2 separate regions of the Homo sapiens genome follow, and region 2 is linked to region 1. The links come from fine-mapping of genetic effects on gene expression. Tissue or cell type: whole blood. Region 1 holds a variant in brackets; the other region holds the start of a gene. All regions are shown on one strand. Distances are from middle to middle.

What was found. PIP is the estimated chance that this variant, and not a neighbour inherited with it, causes the effect. A credible set is the group of variants that fine-mapping cannot tell apart.
Region 2: it holds the start of LINC02930, and the variant in region 1 is the best candidate, but not a certain one, in a credible set for the expression of LINC02930 in whole blood (TOPMed, PIP 0.77).

The regions. Positions count from the first base shown.
Region 1 is chr10:120,795,357-120,803,466 of GRCh38, reverse strand. All of the region lies in intron 2 of LINC02930 (long intergenic non-protein coding RNA 2930), which reads right to left. All of the region lies in intron 1 of WDR11-DT (WDR11 divergent transcript), which reads left to right. Among named protein-coding and RNA genes, the nearest start is that of WDR11-DT, 52 kb to the left of the region's middle. RefSeq lists an enhancer at 4,072-4,740. The variant G/T (reference allele first, on the strand shown) is at 3,630.
Region 2 is chr10:120,605,274-120,613,383 of GRCh38, reverse strand. LINC02930 (long intergenic non-protein coding RNA 2930) reads right to left here and starts at 4,802. Exons shown (of 5, transcript XR_002957103.2): 1 at 4,611-4,802.

The DNA of each region.
Region 1 (8,110 bases):
CCTGACCTCATGATCCACCCACCTTGGCCTCACAAAGTGCTGGGATTACAGGCATGAACCACCATGCTCGGCTCCAGATATCTTTTTAGAAATACTCTGATCTGAAAAGGCACCTCTGTATGCTAGTGTGAGTTAATTGATCAGATACATTTCCTCATTGGCAATAGAGATAGAGGCAAAGGGGAGCTTTGAGTAACAGGACCTCGATCAAACCTCTGTGTGCCCACCTTGTGATTGTCTTCCAGTGTGTGCTGAGTTGTATGACAAATAATGAGACAATGGGAAAGCTACTCTAGAAGGCTCTGTTCTCTTTGTATGGGCAAATAAAGCAGAAACCTAACTCACAGGCTCCTTTCTCATGATCACTATTTGCACAACGCTCTGCATAGTGAGGGATGTTATGTCCTTTAATCCTGACTACAAAAGGCAAAGAATCTGTATTGTAAGGAAACAAGGGAGCTGGAGCATGTGCAAAGAATGTTCACTTCCGGCAATAAGTGGGTCTTAAGATTGTGTTTAATTCTGCTTGAAAGTATTGTGGGCATATAATTTTCATTTCTGAAATGTTGTCCTCATTTCTCACCAATCTTTAATGCGCAGAGGCTAATGATTTTAAATTTCACCGTTCTTGCCCTTGAGCTTGTCAGTGAAATAACCTACCATGAAACTTGTCCATGTTCTGCTGCCTGAAGAATCCTTTAGCAAAGTACATCCTAATACTCTAATTGATCGATTGTTTAAATTTTTGCTTTAATACATAGGCATATTTAACTCAGCAAGGAAACAAGAAGGATAGGTAATTGGATGTCTTTTTCTTTTTTAATGTAAACTTTCTTTCTCCCAGGAGCACACACAACCAGGAAATTCTGAAGGTGAGCAATGAATGAGCCAGGGCTTGTTTTTCATAAATGTTTATAAAATCTATAGTGATATCACCTCTTTCAATCCTGATTTTGGTAATTTGTATTTTCTTTGTTTTCTCAATCAGTGTGGATAGGTATTGTGTCAACATGCTAAAGCAAAAACTACCTTTCTCAGAATTCCCTTCTCTGTTTGGTTCTGAGTCAGGGTTGTCCCCAAGAGAAATTTATGTGAGATGTGCAAGACAGTGTGAAAGGAAAATATCTTGGGGCCCCCAAATCACTAAGTTGAAGGGAAAAATCAAGCTGAGAACTGCTTAGGGCAATCCTGCCTCCCATTCTATTCAAAGTCACCCCTCTGCTCACTGAGATAAATATGTATCTGATTGCCTCCTTTGGAGAGGCTAATCAGAAACTCAAAAGATTGCAACCATTTCTTTCTTATTGACCTATGGCCTAGAAACCCCCTCTCCACTTGGACTTGTCCCACCTTTCCAGACAGAACCAATGTTCATCTTACATATGTTGATTGATGTCTCATGTCTCCCTAAAATGTATAAAACCAAACTGTGCTCTGACCACCTTGGGCACATGTTGTCAGGACCTCCTGAGGCTGTGTCATGGGCATGTGTCCTCAACCTTGGCAAAATAAACTTTCAAAATTAACTGAGACCTCTTTCAGATATTTGGGGTTCACAGTAGAATAAAGTGGCAGCCAGTGGATGTATGGGAAGGCGTGGCTGAGCTCCTGCACATTGCTGGTTCTTTGGTGGTTCATCATATATGTGGGGGCAAGAGCCAGGTCTACAGCTCCCCTCATTTCTGGGCTTCTGCCTCCAGCTTTTCTCAACCCTGGTTGAGCCACCTATGCAGCTGTACAACAAGAGCACCAGCAGCTCACTTGAGACATTGAAGTTGGACGCTCAGAGGCAGTGAAAGGCCTATGCACGTTCCAGCTTGTGCCCCTGAATCCTAGTGGGTCCTCCGAGGCTCCAGTTTATCCTGGATTTCTCCCACTTCTAGTCCAGGTTTTGTTCCTGACTGGTGGCTCTATAGGCTTTGGACACCAAAGCACTTGTTTCACATAGACTGTTTAACCAGTTACCCCTGTCAACGTAGGAGTCAAATGCTATAAACTATTTAAGGAGGTTTATTCTGAGCCAAATATGAGTGACCAAGGCTTGTGACACAGCCCCAGGAGGTCCTGAAAACATGTCCCCAAAGTGGTTGTTTTACAGTTTGATTTTAAACATTTTAGAGGGACAGAAGTTACAGACAGACATCAATCAATACATATAAGGTGTTCATTAGTTTGGAAAGGCAGGCAACTCAAAGTGGGAGGGCTTTCGGGTCATAGGTGGATTCAAAGATTTTCTGATTGGCAATTGGTTATCTGAAGACCTGGAATCAATAGAAAGGAGTGTTTGGGTTAAGATAAAGGACTGTGGAAAACAGGGTTCTTATGTAGATGAAGTCTCCTAGGTGGCCGCCCTTAGAGGCAATAGATGGCAAGTGTTTTCTATTCAGACCCTCAAAAGGTGCTAGACTCTCAGCCAACCTCTTCAGGATCAGAAAAAGACCTGGAAAGAACAGGGGATTCTCTATAGAATGTAAATTTCCCCCACAAGAGACAGCTTTGCAAGACCATTTCAAAATATATCAAATAAGTATATTTTGGGACAAAAGACTGATTTCTTTCAGGGCCTGCTACTTGTCATGCAATACTATACTAGAGTCAGGTTGGAATTTGGTATCTTATTGCTACAAACAGTTTGTTCTCTCAGTCTTAGAATCTCTGTTTTAATGTTAATGCTGATCAGTTGTGCCTGAATTCCACAGGGAAGAGGTTACAATGAGGCATGTCTGACCCCCACTCCTTTCCATCCTTGCATTAAATAGTTTTTCGGGTTTGCTTTGGAATGCCCTTGGCCAAGAGGAACATCCATCAGTTGGCTGAGAGGCTTAGAGTTTTATTTCTGGTTTACAGCACAATTGCATGAGGTCAGATTCCTACCATATTCTGTATCACTCATATTGGCTCAGATTCTCTGATCAACCCTCAGGTGAAGTCTTGTTGTGGGGTTATCAATGTTACCATTTTATTCACAAAAGTAACTATTGTCCTTGCTAATTTTCTCTTATTTATCTGTTTTCTACTTCTTTGATTTCTGCTGATCTTTCTTTCTTCCCTTAAACTTATTTTGAGTTTAATTCACCCATGTTTTCTTAGTTTCATAATGTGAAAACATATTTTAAAAGAAGAAATATTTCAAGTCAGTGATTTCAGATTTAAATCTGTAACTGCCCGATGGGTTCTTCTTGCACAAACAAAATCAGTTCACGGAGACTCAAGGCATTGCCATAAAAAAAGAGTTTAATTAACATGAGACTAGCCACACCAGGTGAGAGACGAAGTTATTACTCAAATCAATCTCACTGAAGGCTTGGAGGTTAGGGGTTCTTCAAAGATAGTTTGGTGGGCAGGGGGCTAGGCTATAGGTGCTGCTAATTGGTTGGGGATGCAATGATGGTGGTATGAAATATGGTCCTCATGAGCTGAGTTGGCTTCTAGGTGGGGCCACAGAACTGGTTAAGTCACAGGTCCAAATGGGGCCATCTGGTTGTTAGAAGTGCAAAACCCTGAAAAGACACTTCAAAAAGCCAAACTTGGGTTCTACAATAGTAATGTTATCTGCAGGAGTAATTGGGGAAGTTGCAAATCTTGTGACCTCCGGGAAAATGGCTGTAATTGTTTACCTACTTTACATT[G/T]TAGCAGAATTCCAGCCCCTCTCATTCTCCTAACCTGATGACCTTTCATTAGTTTTACAAGGTCAGTTTAGTTTTAGGGAAGGGCTATTGTTATTTAAAATATAAACCAAATTTCTCCCAAAGTTAGCTTGGCCCATGCCCAGGAATTAGCAAAAACAGCTAGCCTGTGAGGTTAGAAGTGAGATGGAATCAGCCATGTCAGATTTTTCTTTCTATCATAATTTTGCAAAGGTGGTTTCGAAGCTATACATCTCTCTTAAGTCAGTGCTTTAGCAGAATCTCTGAATTTTTGATATGTGTTTTAAAATCACTTTTCTGTATAAAATATTTTCTTAATGCTTATAATTTCCTCTTTGACCTGTGCATTTTTTACAAGGGGGTAGTTTAATTTTTAAGCCTTTGGAGACTTCCTAGATACTTTATTGTTATTGATTTCTAATTTAATTTTATGGTTCTAAATAAGCTTTTAAAGATTTCAATATTTTGAAATTATTTTTATTTTTATTTTTTTATTTTTTTAGTATTTATTGATCATTCTTGGGTGTTTCTCAGAGAGGGGGATTTGGCAGGGTCATAGGACAATAGTGGAGGGAAGGTCAGCAGATAAACATGTGAACAAAGGTCTCTGGTTTTCCTAGGCAGAGGGCCCTGCTGCCTTCCGCAGTGTTTGTGTCCCTGGGTCCTTGAGATTAGGGAGTGGTGATGACTCTTAACGAGCAAGCTGCCTTCAAGCATCTGTTTAACAAAGCACATCTTGCACCGCCCTTAATCCATTTAACCCTTAGTGGACACAGCACATGTTTCAGAGAGCACGGGGTTGGGGGTAAGGTTATAGATTAACAGCATCCCAAGGCAGAAGAATTTTTCTTAGTACAGAACAAAATGGAGTCTCCTATGTCTACTTCTTTCTACACAGACATAGTAACAATCCTGATCTCTCTTTCTTTTCCCCACATTTCCCCCTTTTCTATTCGACAAAACCACCATCGTCATGTCATCATGGCCCGTTCTCAATGAGCTATTGGGTACACCTCCCAGACGGGGTGGCCGGGCAGAGGCGCCCCCCAACCTCCCAGACGGGGCGGCTGGCCGGGCGGGGGCTGCCCCCCCCACCTCCCGGACGGGGCGGCTGCCGGGCGGAGGGGCTCCTCACTTCTCAGACGGGGCGGCTGGTCACAGACGCTCCTCACCTCCCAGACGGCGTGGCGGCGGGGCAGAGACACTCCTCAGTTCTCAGACGGGGTCGCGGCTGGACAGAGGCGCTCTTCACATCTCAGACGGGGCGGCGGGGCAGAGGCGCTCCCCACATCCCAGACGATGGGCTGCCGGGCAGAGACGCTCCTCACTTCCTAGACGGGATGACGGCCAGGAAGAGGCGCTCCTCACTTCCCAGACTGGGCGGCCGGGCAGAGGGGCTCCTCACATCCCAGACAATGGGCAGCCAGGCAGAGACGCTCCTCACTTCCTAGATGGGGTGGTGGCCGGGCAGAGGCTGCCATCTCGGCGCTTTGGGAGGCCAAGGCAGGCGGCTGGGAGGTGGAGGTTGTAGCGAGCCGAGATCACGCCACTGCACTCCAGCCTGGGCACCACTGAGCACTGAGTGAGTGAGACTCCGTCTGCAATCCCAGCACCTCAGGAGGCCAAGGCTGGCAGATCACTCGCGGTCAGGAGCTGGAGACCAGCCGGGCCAGCACTGCGAAACCCCGTCTCCACCAAAAAAATACGAAAACCAGTCAGGCGTGGCGGTGCGCGCTTGCAATCCCAGGCACTCGGCAGGCTGAGGCAGGAGAATCAGGCAGGGGGGGTTGCAGTGAGTCCAGATGGCGGCAGTACAGTCCAGCCTCGGCTGGGCATCAGAGGGAAACCATGCAAAGAGGGGGAGGGGGAGAGGGAGCCAATATTTTGAAATTTATTGAGACATTTTAGAACCTAGTATATAGCCTCTTGGTGAATGTTCTGTGTGTTCTTAAAAAGTGAATGTGTATTCTACCACTGTTCAGTAAATGCCAATTGGGTCAAGTTTGTTGATAGTCAAATCTATATCCTTACCCATCTTTTTGTCCCATTTTTTCTGTCAGTTATTGAACAAGAGGTGTTAAAATCTCCAATTACTTCTATTTCTCTAACACTGCCATTTTTTTCTTTGTGGATTTTGAATTTCTCTATATATTTTGTATATTTTGAAGGTCACATACATCTTTTGTCGTCATGTATTCTGATGAATTGACCCTTTTGTCATTATTAAATGTGCTTTATCTCTATTCATAGTCCTTGCCTTGAAATTTATTTTGACTGGTATTAATATAGCCACACCACATCGTGTTTATTAAGCTCACATTTTGCATGGTATATGTTTTTCTATACTTTTCCTTTCAGTCTATATCTTTATATTTAAAGTGCATTTGTCTTAGACATCCTTTTTTTTGGCCACAGGATAAGAAGAAAACCATAAAAATTACTAGATGCCCTATGATGAAAGAAAAGGTTTCTAAATGGCGTTATATCTGGATAACTATAAACCACATTCCATGACTTTAGGCAAGTGATTGATTAAAAATATAATTTTCCTGTAATTTGTCAGTTGCTTAGCTCACACAGATCCTTTTGACAGCTGTTTCTTAAACAAGAAAAATATGAGACTGTCAGAGACAGTTTAGGTTGCTGGTGTTACATCTTGCAATAAAAACATCATTTGAATGAAATGAGATTATAAGAGTTTGCTGCTAACTCTGAACAAACACCATCTTCTTGCAGCATAGCAGTGGATCTGGCAATGGCAGTTTGATGACTCTAATCAAAGCACTTATCATATGAATTGAAGTGAAAAGAACGAGAAAAGAGAACAAAGAAATTATTTTACTCTAAACAACAGGTGCCTTGAAATTAAACCATCTTTAGTGGTTAAATGACCTTATACTCACTCTCTTTTCCTATCTATCCATCGCCAACTCATATATTCTAATCTTTCTTTCAAATTGCTAGACTGAATTAAAAATAATTGTTTTCTATACAGGGTCAGGAAAATATGAAAATATAGCCATGTTATAATTATTATAATCCATATTTATCATTATCTATATTTTACACCTAACATTTACACTTGTTTTGCACAGGAATATTTGGACCAATTTCTAGAAATATTTGGACCAAATCTAGAAATGTTTTTGAAAGACTTATTTCTTACTTTTATGCTAAAGTCTCATAAACAATATTTAAAAGCAGCTAGCAAATATGTGCTGAGTGAGACCAGGAACACTTTGTAATATTCTTGCTGAAAGTGCAAAACCTGATTCTGATCCTAAAGGAATCCAGATAAACTATACTAAAGAACATTCTACAAAATAATGGGTTGCATTCTTTAAAAATATCAGAGTCAAGCAGCACACCAAGCTGAGGAACTGTTCTAGATTAAAGGAGATTAAGGAGACGTGACAACTAAATCTAATGCATTATCCTGGACTGGACTCTGAACCAATGGGGGAAAGTAGCTGAAAAGGACATTACTGGGACAACTGATGAAATCTGAATATGGACTATCATTGGGAAATGGTATTATATCACTGTTAAAATTCCTAATTTTGAACATTGGATTGTGACTAAATAAGAGAATGTCTTTGTTCTAAGGAAGCACACACACATCAGTACTTGGAGTATATGGACCTGATGTCTGCAACTTACTCCCAAATGGTTTGAGGGGAAAAATCCTCTTTTTCTCTCTCTCTATCCCTAGCCTATAGACAGATGGTGAGTCTGGACCATGTACATGTGAGTTCCTTGTACTATTCTTACAATTTTTCTCTAAATTTGAAATCCTATCAAAATATACAGTTACCAAAACAAACAGACTGCTAACAAATTGTCTTTCCCATTAACCTATATGTCTATTAGAGATTAGGAAATCCTTCATTTGCTTTAGCAAAAAGCATCACAGCACAGACTTTTGAGCCAAAGACTGATTTGAATTAAGACTCCTTGTGTGAACATGGATAAGTTACTTAACTTCTCTGACCTTCAGTTTTCTCCTTTATAACACAGGGATAACGAGTCCTATCAAAAAGTTGAAAGGATTAAATAAAATTATATACATAAATAGTTTCATTTGGTGTTGGACACATAGTAAAACCTAATAAATGTAGCTCCTGTTGTTTAAATTGATTAAGAGGTGTCCAATAGTATCTAGTATTGTGCTATCCAATAGAAACAGAATGTAAGTCACACATGCAATTTAAAATGTAAATTTTAAAATTTAAAAAGTAAAAAGCAAGTGAAATTAAATGATTTAGTTTTATTTTATCCAAAATAGCAAAAATATATTTCAAAATGTAATCATTATAAAACTTACTGAGATATTTTACATTTTTTTAATTTACTAAACAAACACTCGAGATGCGGTGTGTATATTATAGCACCTCTCAATGTGTTCTAGTCACATTTCGGTTGTTTAACAGCCACATGTGAGTGGCTGCCATACTGGACTGTAC
Region 2 (8,110 bases), 190 kb after region 1:
ATCTTGGGAGGAAATTACACAGTCCATATTCATTTACTAGATCAAGATTAGCAACTGTCGTCATCCCTCAAAAAAAGGAGGAGGGAGAGGGTCAGGAAAAATAACTAATGGGTACTAGGCTTAATACCTGGGTGATGAAACAACCTGTCCAACAAACCTCCACGACACAAGTTTACCTATATAACAAACCTGCACGTGTAGCCTGAACTTAAAATAAAAGTTTAAAATAAAAAAGAATAAAAGACTGCTTCAAAACAACAAATAAACAAAAGTAAGTCTGGGTCAAGGATGAGTCAGTATTGATAATGGGAAAGGGAAGAAGTGTTTAAGCCCAGCTTAGAGGGTTATCGGTGTGAGAGTCCTAGACAGGGAAAGCCAGGCCATGCCCAGACTACACGTCTCTATTATTCTTCCCCATGGTGGACTTATTTATATGAATGTCTTGCCACTGAGTTACAATCTCCTCTCCAACCCCAACCTCCAGGTCCTGTTTCTATTCAACTATGTAATGTTTGATGAATTGTTGGCAGCAGAAACAGTGCAACATGTGTATGCAAAGACTAGGAAATGAAGAACTTCCATTTCTGGCCATGACAGAGTAGCTGGAAGCTGATATATTTTCCCATCATAAATTACTAGAAAACTAAATAGAATATATAAAACTGCTTTCAGGCATTGGACAACAGGTAGCATTAAGAACATAGTCCCTGAGAGAAGATAAATAACAAGGTGAGCCCCACAACCACTCCAGATTTCTGCCTGGAGGCACCTTCCAGACCTCAGTGCCCAAAGCGATGCCAAGGAGAACACAGCAGTCTTTGTGAATTGACAAGACAGGGATCATAGTTTAGAGAGACTGAGGCAGCTTTGTGAGGTAGTATACTGGAGAGGAAAAAAACGTACAAAGAAAAAGCTCCAGAAATCTGCATGGGTGTCTCTATGGGTCTCTGACTGAAAACTGAGCTGTGTATTTTCAGAGTAAAACTCCATAGAACTGGTCAAAGAACTGCTACCTGTAAGCTGTGAGCTGAGCAATTCCCAGAGCTCACGCAGGGATGCAAGATAGTTTAGCTCCAACCAGCCAGAGTAGAGAGACCTGGTTAAAATCCCAGAGCATTTAGTAGAGACTTCATGAGGGCCATGCCATTGTACTAGCCCTACAGACTACTTTAGGACCACTCTAATAAAGCTTAAAAACAAACCTCAAAAACAAAACAAAACAAAAACAATTTGATGCTCAAATAACAACTTTCTGCCAGAGCAAAGTCTAACTCTCTTTAAAGGATGACAACAAAATCCAAATACTCAACAAAGTAAAATTTACAGTGTTCAGCACCCAGATAAAAATTACTGTACAGGCCAAGAAACAAGAAATGATAGTCTATACAACCAGGAGAAAAATTAGGCTATAGAAACAGAGACTCAAAACCAAAATCCTTAGGTATATTTTTGTCTCTTTTTCAAATTCTTCTTCTCAATTAGCAATTGATTTTACCCCTGTCAAACTCTATAAATATGAAGTCACTCATGTTTATTTCTCACTTAATGTGCTTAACAGCTAATTAACAAGATGTTTACAGAAAGTCCTTAGAGACCAGTAGACGGTCTCTGCCTTGGAAAAACCAAAGGCTGGGCTTGCTTGGATGAGAGGAGAAAAGCTTCTCACCCATGACACATGAAAATAACTAATACTTGATGAATTCCTCCCAGGGACTTAAGGTGCCCATCTCCTTTCCAGCCCGTATGAACTTTTTGAAAGTGTATCTCATCCTCACTTCCCCAACCCACACCTATAGTGATTTCAAAGTAAAAAAGTAAGAAAACCAAATAGCAAATATTGACAAGCTCCCAGAAGAAAGTAGAGAAATGCAAAATTGAGACTCTTACTTGGATCATGCCTTGGTTTTCTCTAGTATGCCTGGGGAGTTATGCCAAATTATTTCCTTGGCTTTAATAAGCACATTAAAAAGTGACCCAACATTCTATAACTATGATTTTATAAATAGCTACCTAGGACAACCTGAAGAAAGTGGCCGTCACCATGTCCATAGAATATATTGCCCCAAGAACAGGTGGAAGGAGAAAATGTTTTCCATCAGAACCTTTAAACAGTAGCTTAGATTTTGCTTAGCTTCCTAATAAATGTGATTAATGCAAATGTAAGCCTTTATTTTAAATGTAATCATCTCTGCCCCTGCACACAAGGCTCTTTACATGGAGAGTTAGGTGCCAAAGCAACTCTAACCATAAGAAGGAAGCTTGTTCATTCTCAGAATATGCTGAAGCTCACTGAATTGCAGAACTATACAATAGCTCCAAATGTTATTATGCCCATATGTCCAGGAGTTTAAGTGGCTTCTGCAGTGCCTCTTACTCATGTCATTGTGTGGGTGGCAGTGTTCTGGCCAACAATGACCATGGGATTGAGCATCTTGTATAATCATCTTACTAGGTTCTGAGAGTTATCCAGAACTGACAGCACAGGGCTGCTTACAGATGCTAATTAGAAGGGCAGCTCAAGTTATTTCCTAGATAATGAGGGGAAGTGTTTGTGATTTAACTTCTACCTACTATTGTTCCCTGTGGAGTTTTTGGAGGGAAGTAATTGCCTCATTGCTGCAAAGTGTTAACTTGGTTTGTGCTTTGTTCTTGCTGCCATAGCTTTTTCCTCCTCTGAACTCTGCATGAGTCTAAGGGTTATTTGTTCCCAGTGGCTTCAGATTCTTCCAGGTATTCTATTAAGATGACTGCTTAATTTCCAAGAGTCGAATGTGAAACATAGAATCTCAGTAGTTAGTCTAACATTTTCCTCAATGTTTAAATTCCCTTGTCAACGTACCCTATATGTGTTTGGTCTCTGCTGGAAAGTCTCCAGACAAGAAACTCACTACTCACTGGCAAGCCCATTTCTCTATTAAGAAAGTTCTTAAAACTGAACCAAAGTCTCTTTCCTACTCATTGGTTCTAATCCTTCCTCTGCCATGCAAGAAATAAGCCTACTCAGTTTCGTATATCATAGCTCTTGATGTGTTATACTCTGCTCAAACCCAGCAGCCACTCCCAACGACCTGTCAAATCCCGAGTGTCCTTTTCTCTAGCCAACGATGCTGCAATAGAATTCTGACTCTCTGGGTTTCTTTTTCTTTTTTGCTCTCATTATTTCTCTGATTAAGAGAAATTTTCCTCCATTCTTCCTTCCTTCCTCTTATTTTCTTCTTTCCTTCCTCCCGCCTCCCTTTCCCTATCTCTCTCTTCCTGTTACAAAACATATACAATTTAAAAACATTGTTCAGAAACACCATCACATGCCTCCACAAGTCTCTGCAGTCTCTTTGGTAGTACTAGACCCAGATCTGGTCCTCATAAGCATTGCTTTCTTGCTCCATAAAAAGAAAATCTCAGGTCCTATTTGTCTGTGAAATCATGGTAAAAAGTTATCTTTGGGGTCTTATTTTTCCCAGAATGCCAATACTGGTCTACTGAACCTAGACCTCATCTTTCCATTTCGTGACACAACTGCTTTCTTCTGAGCACAAAATGGAGCTGAGAGTCAAGACAATTACGCGATTACATTCAGATGACAAACTTTTTGGTCTTAGCATTTGATAGAAGAAAAAATATTTTATTAACATAAAACTTGCTGATGGGTATCCAAAGCCTCCACTTCATCACACACAGTGCAGACATGGCCTTTGAGTGCACACCAAGCTTAGTAACCTCCTTGCTCACTAAACTGTGGTGCTTCTCTTTTCACAAACATAAGCTGGGATCTTAGCAATTCCCCATCTGTCCACAGGTGAATATGTTATTTGAGAGAGGAGGCAGCTGCTACAACTCTTCATGGAAAACCAACATTGTAATTGCAAAAATAATTTGCAAATGATATTTCATGTGTTGCATTATTGCTTGTGATACTGATGGTTTATTAACCTACTTTCTTCTTATTTCTATGGGAAAACACAAAGACCTCATTTTTCCCTCAGATCACGTCAAAGTTAGGATGGATTTAAATGTACATTTATTTATTTATATACAGATATTCAGATAAGTTGGACAGCCACATCCCTACATTTTCTAAAATGACATAATGGGCATCAATAACAGGGTAAAATTGTGGCTCTGAGCCATCAGACAGAAACTGACGTTGCAGCCCAGCTGTGTGTACACAAACACTCAGGCTGATGAAGGAAGGCCACGGAATTCAAACCAGCACATCTTGCTGCTTTGCATTCAGCCTGCATCACCCGGGACAGAAAAACAGTGTGCTAATGAGAGAAAAAGTTGAACAACATAGAGTTCCTCTTTACAGGTTCCTAACATTATCTGGACAAACTGAGTGTTAGAGCTGGCCCGAGGGCTGATGGTGAGCAAGGGAACCGTCCAGGAGCAAATGAAACTGTCACGAAGGAAATGCCAGGCTCAGATAGACCCCACTCAGGAGGAAGGAAACCAGTGAGAAGGGAGGAAGGGGACCCCATCTCTGTTTCAGGACTTGGACTCATGGTTACTGTCCCTTGCTAAGAGCAATGTCCATTCTGTTCAGTCACGTGGGATGCAAACTCTAAACAAACCTTGATGAAGAGGAAAAGAGAATGCATTGGCTCAAGTACCTGAAAAGCCCAGGGCAGGGCTGGTTTCGGGCTTGGCTGGATTCAGAACCCAAGTGATTTCAGGAGTTCACTCCCTCCATGTTTTGCCTCTGATTCCTCTGCCTGGGATCCACCCAGAAGCACCTTCTGCAGTAAGATTGCTGGAGCTGTCCAGGTTCCCCATTCCATCCTCACAGCAACTCTAGCCAAAAGAGAGTTTCTCTTTTTCAGTGGTTTCCATTGAAACCATAGAACTGAGTCTCAGTAGCTCTGATTGGTCAGCTGTGGGCCACATGTTCATCCCTTAACCAATCACTATGGTCAGAGAGATATGGTATTCTCATTGGCCAGGCAGGGTCACATGCTCATCTCTGAAGCTGAGGTGGGGTCAGCCCCACATTGATCACTTGAACAGGGGAAGACTGAATCGTTATCAAAGAAGAGTTGAATTCTATCAAGGGGCCAGGAGTGTAGGACAGCAAACAAAAACAGGTAACCACCTCAGGTTAAAAAACTGCCTGAAGGGAGGGGTCACGGTTTACAGATGGCAAGGAAATCCTAGATACAATGCTAAATAGTGGCTTCATTAGTCATCATCCCACTTGTATCCATGCAGGCTAACAGATTCTGTCATGGATTAGGGCTCTGCTCTTACCAGCCATCATTCTGACCATGCCCACTGTTGAGGACTATGGCTCCCAAGTTGGTCTTGCCATGAGATTTTAAAAGCATGAAATTATCAAGGACAATTAGAATGAATTTGTCTTCATCATCAGCCAGTCAGAAGTTTTGAGAACTAATAATGCTTAAAATCTATAGTGATCGCCTTTAATTATTCTTTCAGCCTGTAAGTTTTCACGTTTTCTTGGCTGACTTTTAATAATGAAACCTGCTGACTTTTAATAGTGAAACCACTGTTCTGACTCATTATTTATATCAGGTGTGTTTCCAATGTGAACTTATAAAGTGGTAGACATTTCTTGGTTATTTTATGTTTTGTTAAAAGTATCAGGGATCATTATGTCTAAGTTTGTTAATTACGTTGATACTTCTCCCAAGGGTTCCATTACTCTCAATGTCAGACAACTGGGAGAAGTTGTTCTGAAAGTCATAGACAGCAGACAAGAGCCTTTTAACTGATGTATTCATTTCTTTAAGAGGCCATGAACTGGCAGTGTCTTCTCTCTGGAATCTCTGTTAGTCATTCCTACTGACTCATAGCAATTCGCTCTCTGAGCAGAAGTTCCCATGAGAGAAGACCCCACTAGATGGTGATGTCAACTGATGGAAGAATTTTGGATGATGTTTACAAAGCAAGGAGGTCTTGTGAGTCTCACCAGCAGGCCAGTGTCAAGTGGAAGAGGCCAGGCCTGGCTGTTGGCCATAGGCTTGGCTGGAATTGGCAAAGGTGCCATTTTAACTTCCACACCCTGCTCATGGCTACCCACTCTACTCCTAACCAAGCTATTTATACCACAAATGCCTGACTACAGATATGGGGACATAAGTGAATGAGAGAGAAAAAGAACGAGAATGGGAAGCATTTTCCCACTTGTGCCATTACAACTGGTCAGGTCCCCAAGCATTCACTTGTTGTCTTCTCTGAGTCTGACAGCCACTCTATGAGTTAGATAGGGCAGGTATTGCTGCCATTTTACAGATGAGGCTTGTCCAGGATCACACAGCCATCTTGGATCCACTACCCAGTAGAGCCTGTGGAATCCATCTCAAAGGGATTAAAAGGATTGAAAATCTGCCCTGCAGATACTGATCAGTCAAGACTTTCTGCATGTTCAGGACAGCTACTGTTCTTTCCTCTCACTATTTCAAATAGCTCAGTCTCAAACTCTAGGCTGATTTGAAGCCCTTGCCTCTTCTCTCTCCCAAAGAGTCAAAAGATATAGTAGCCAGGGAGCCCTTGAACATGCTCCTCCCAACAGCAGCCCGGAGTTCATGCAAGTGAAAGGCTTTGTGAAGACATCAGCCACCCTCTAGCAGATTATTTTATAAATCAGATAAGCCAATTTTTTTGTTTCAATGTCTTCACTTTTTTCTTCTCTTGTTTATTTGTCCAGTTAGTCACTCTCTCGGAGGTAAATTGCATTCCCTCCTGGGGCCACTAGTGTCCCAAAGGAAGAAGAGTTTGTGAACTGTGCTAATAATGCTACGGTATACCTAACCCAAACCCTGCCCTACGTGCTCTTTGCCACATGACTCAGATCATTGGTTGGTCTTCTGTGAGCCCTAGATCTTTCTTTTTAAAGTGTTAAGCCACTGTATTTTCAGTCCAATTTCTAATCATGGCTTTTACCCATTGTTAGTCAAAAGTAGAGAAGAGTATAAGGCCTTATGAGAAACCCGTGTCCATGGTGTTTAGAGAAGTATAGAACTTCAGAAGTCATCCAGTTCAAAGCTTTACGGTGGGTAATCACTAACAATTTCCTTCTCCAAGATTAGTCAGTAAGTAATAGTGAAAATAAGAGCCAGCTTCTCAGGTACTTGCCAGGGGCCAAGCACTTTTTCTAGATATTTTAAATGAATTGATTCATTTCATTTTCATAGTAACTTCCTCATTATCACCATGTTACAGATGAACAAACTGAAGGTAAGAGAATCTAGGTAACTCACCCAAAGCCACATAGTACAGCTGGGATGTAAATCTGTGGGTATGAACCTGTGTTTGAGCTATGATTTGCATAATTCTGGAGCTATTACTCTCACCCACTCAGCTATACTTTTTCAACCAAAAGAAGAGATTAAGCTTATGTATTTCTGTGTGTGTGTGTGTGTGTGTGTGTGTGTGTGTGTGTGTGTGTATAAAAGCATGTATAATAGGCCCTCCCTGCCTCCTTGCCCAGCTGAGGGCCTGGGGGAGGGAGAGACCCAGAGCACAGGACAGCAAAGCTTCTCATTCTTTTTGATTCTCTTTCAGCAGCAAAGATAGAACCTGAATTAATATCTCAATAAATGATCCTTCCCTCCATGGACCAGCCAACGAGCACTCAGCGCTATTCACTCATCTTTTAGCTGGTGTAGGGGACAAGGAGATATGAGTGTGAAGATAATTGTAAAAATTTCAAAGGTTTTTGTTTCTTACTGAAATGACAAAGCTTGAGAGGTTCCTCCCTCCAGTCTCAGGATAATGAGACAGCATTTGCACACTTAAAGAGATTTTTCTCTCTTCTGAATGCTATTGTGTTCCACAAAAAAGCTCTGCTCTCAGTGTAGGGGAGGCTGATGAAGTTTTACTGTAGCCAAACAGGCAGCCTGATAATATGACAGGACGACAGAGAGAGACAACAGTGACAGACAAACAGAGAGGCAGAGAGGTGCTGGTAGAAGAATGAGCAGAGAAGTCAGAAACACACTGTGATGTATAGAGACAGAGAAAAGACACCCCAAGGACATAGAGACCAAGGCAAAACCACAAAAGAGAACATAGCCAGAGTTAGAATGCACCAGTGCCCAGCTGTACATTAAATATGCTATCATTCCCCAAACTTAACTCATTTCAAATTAAA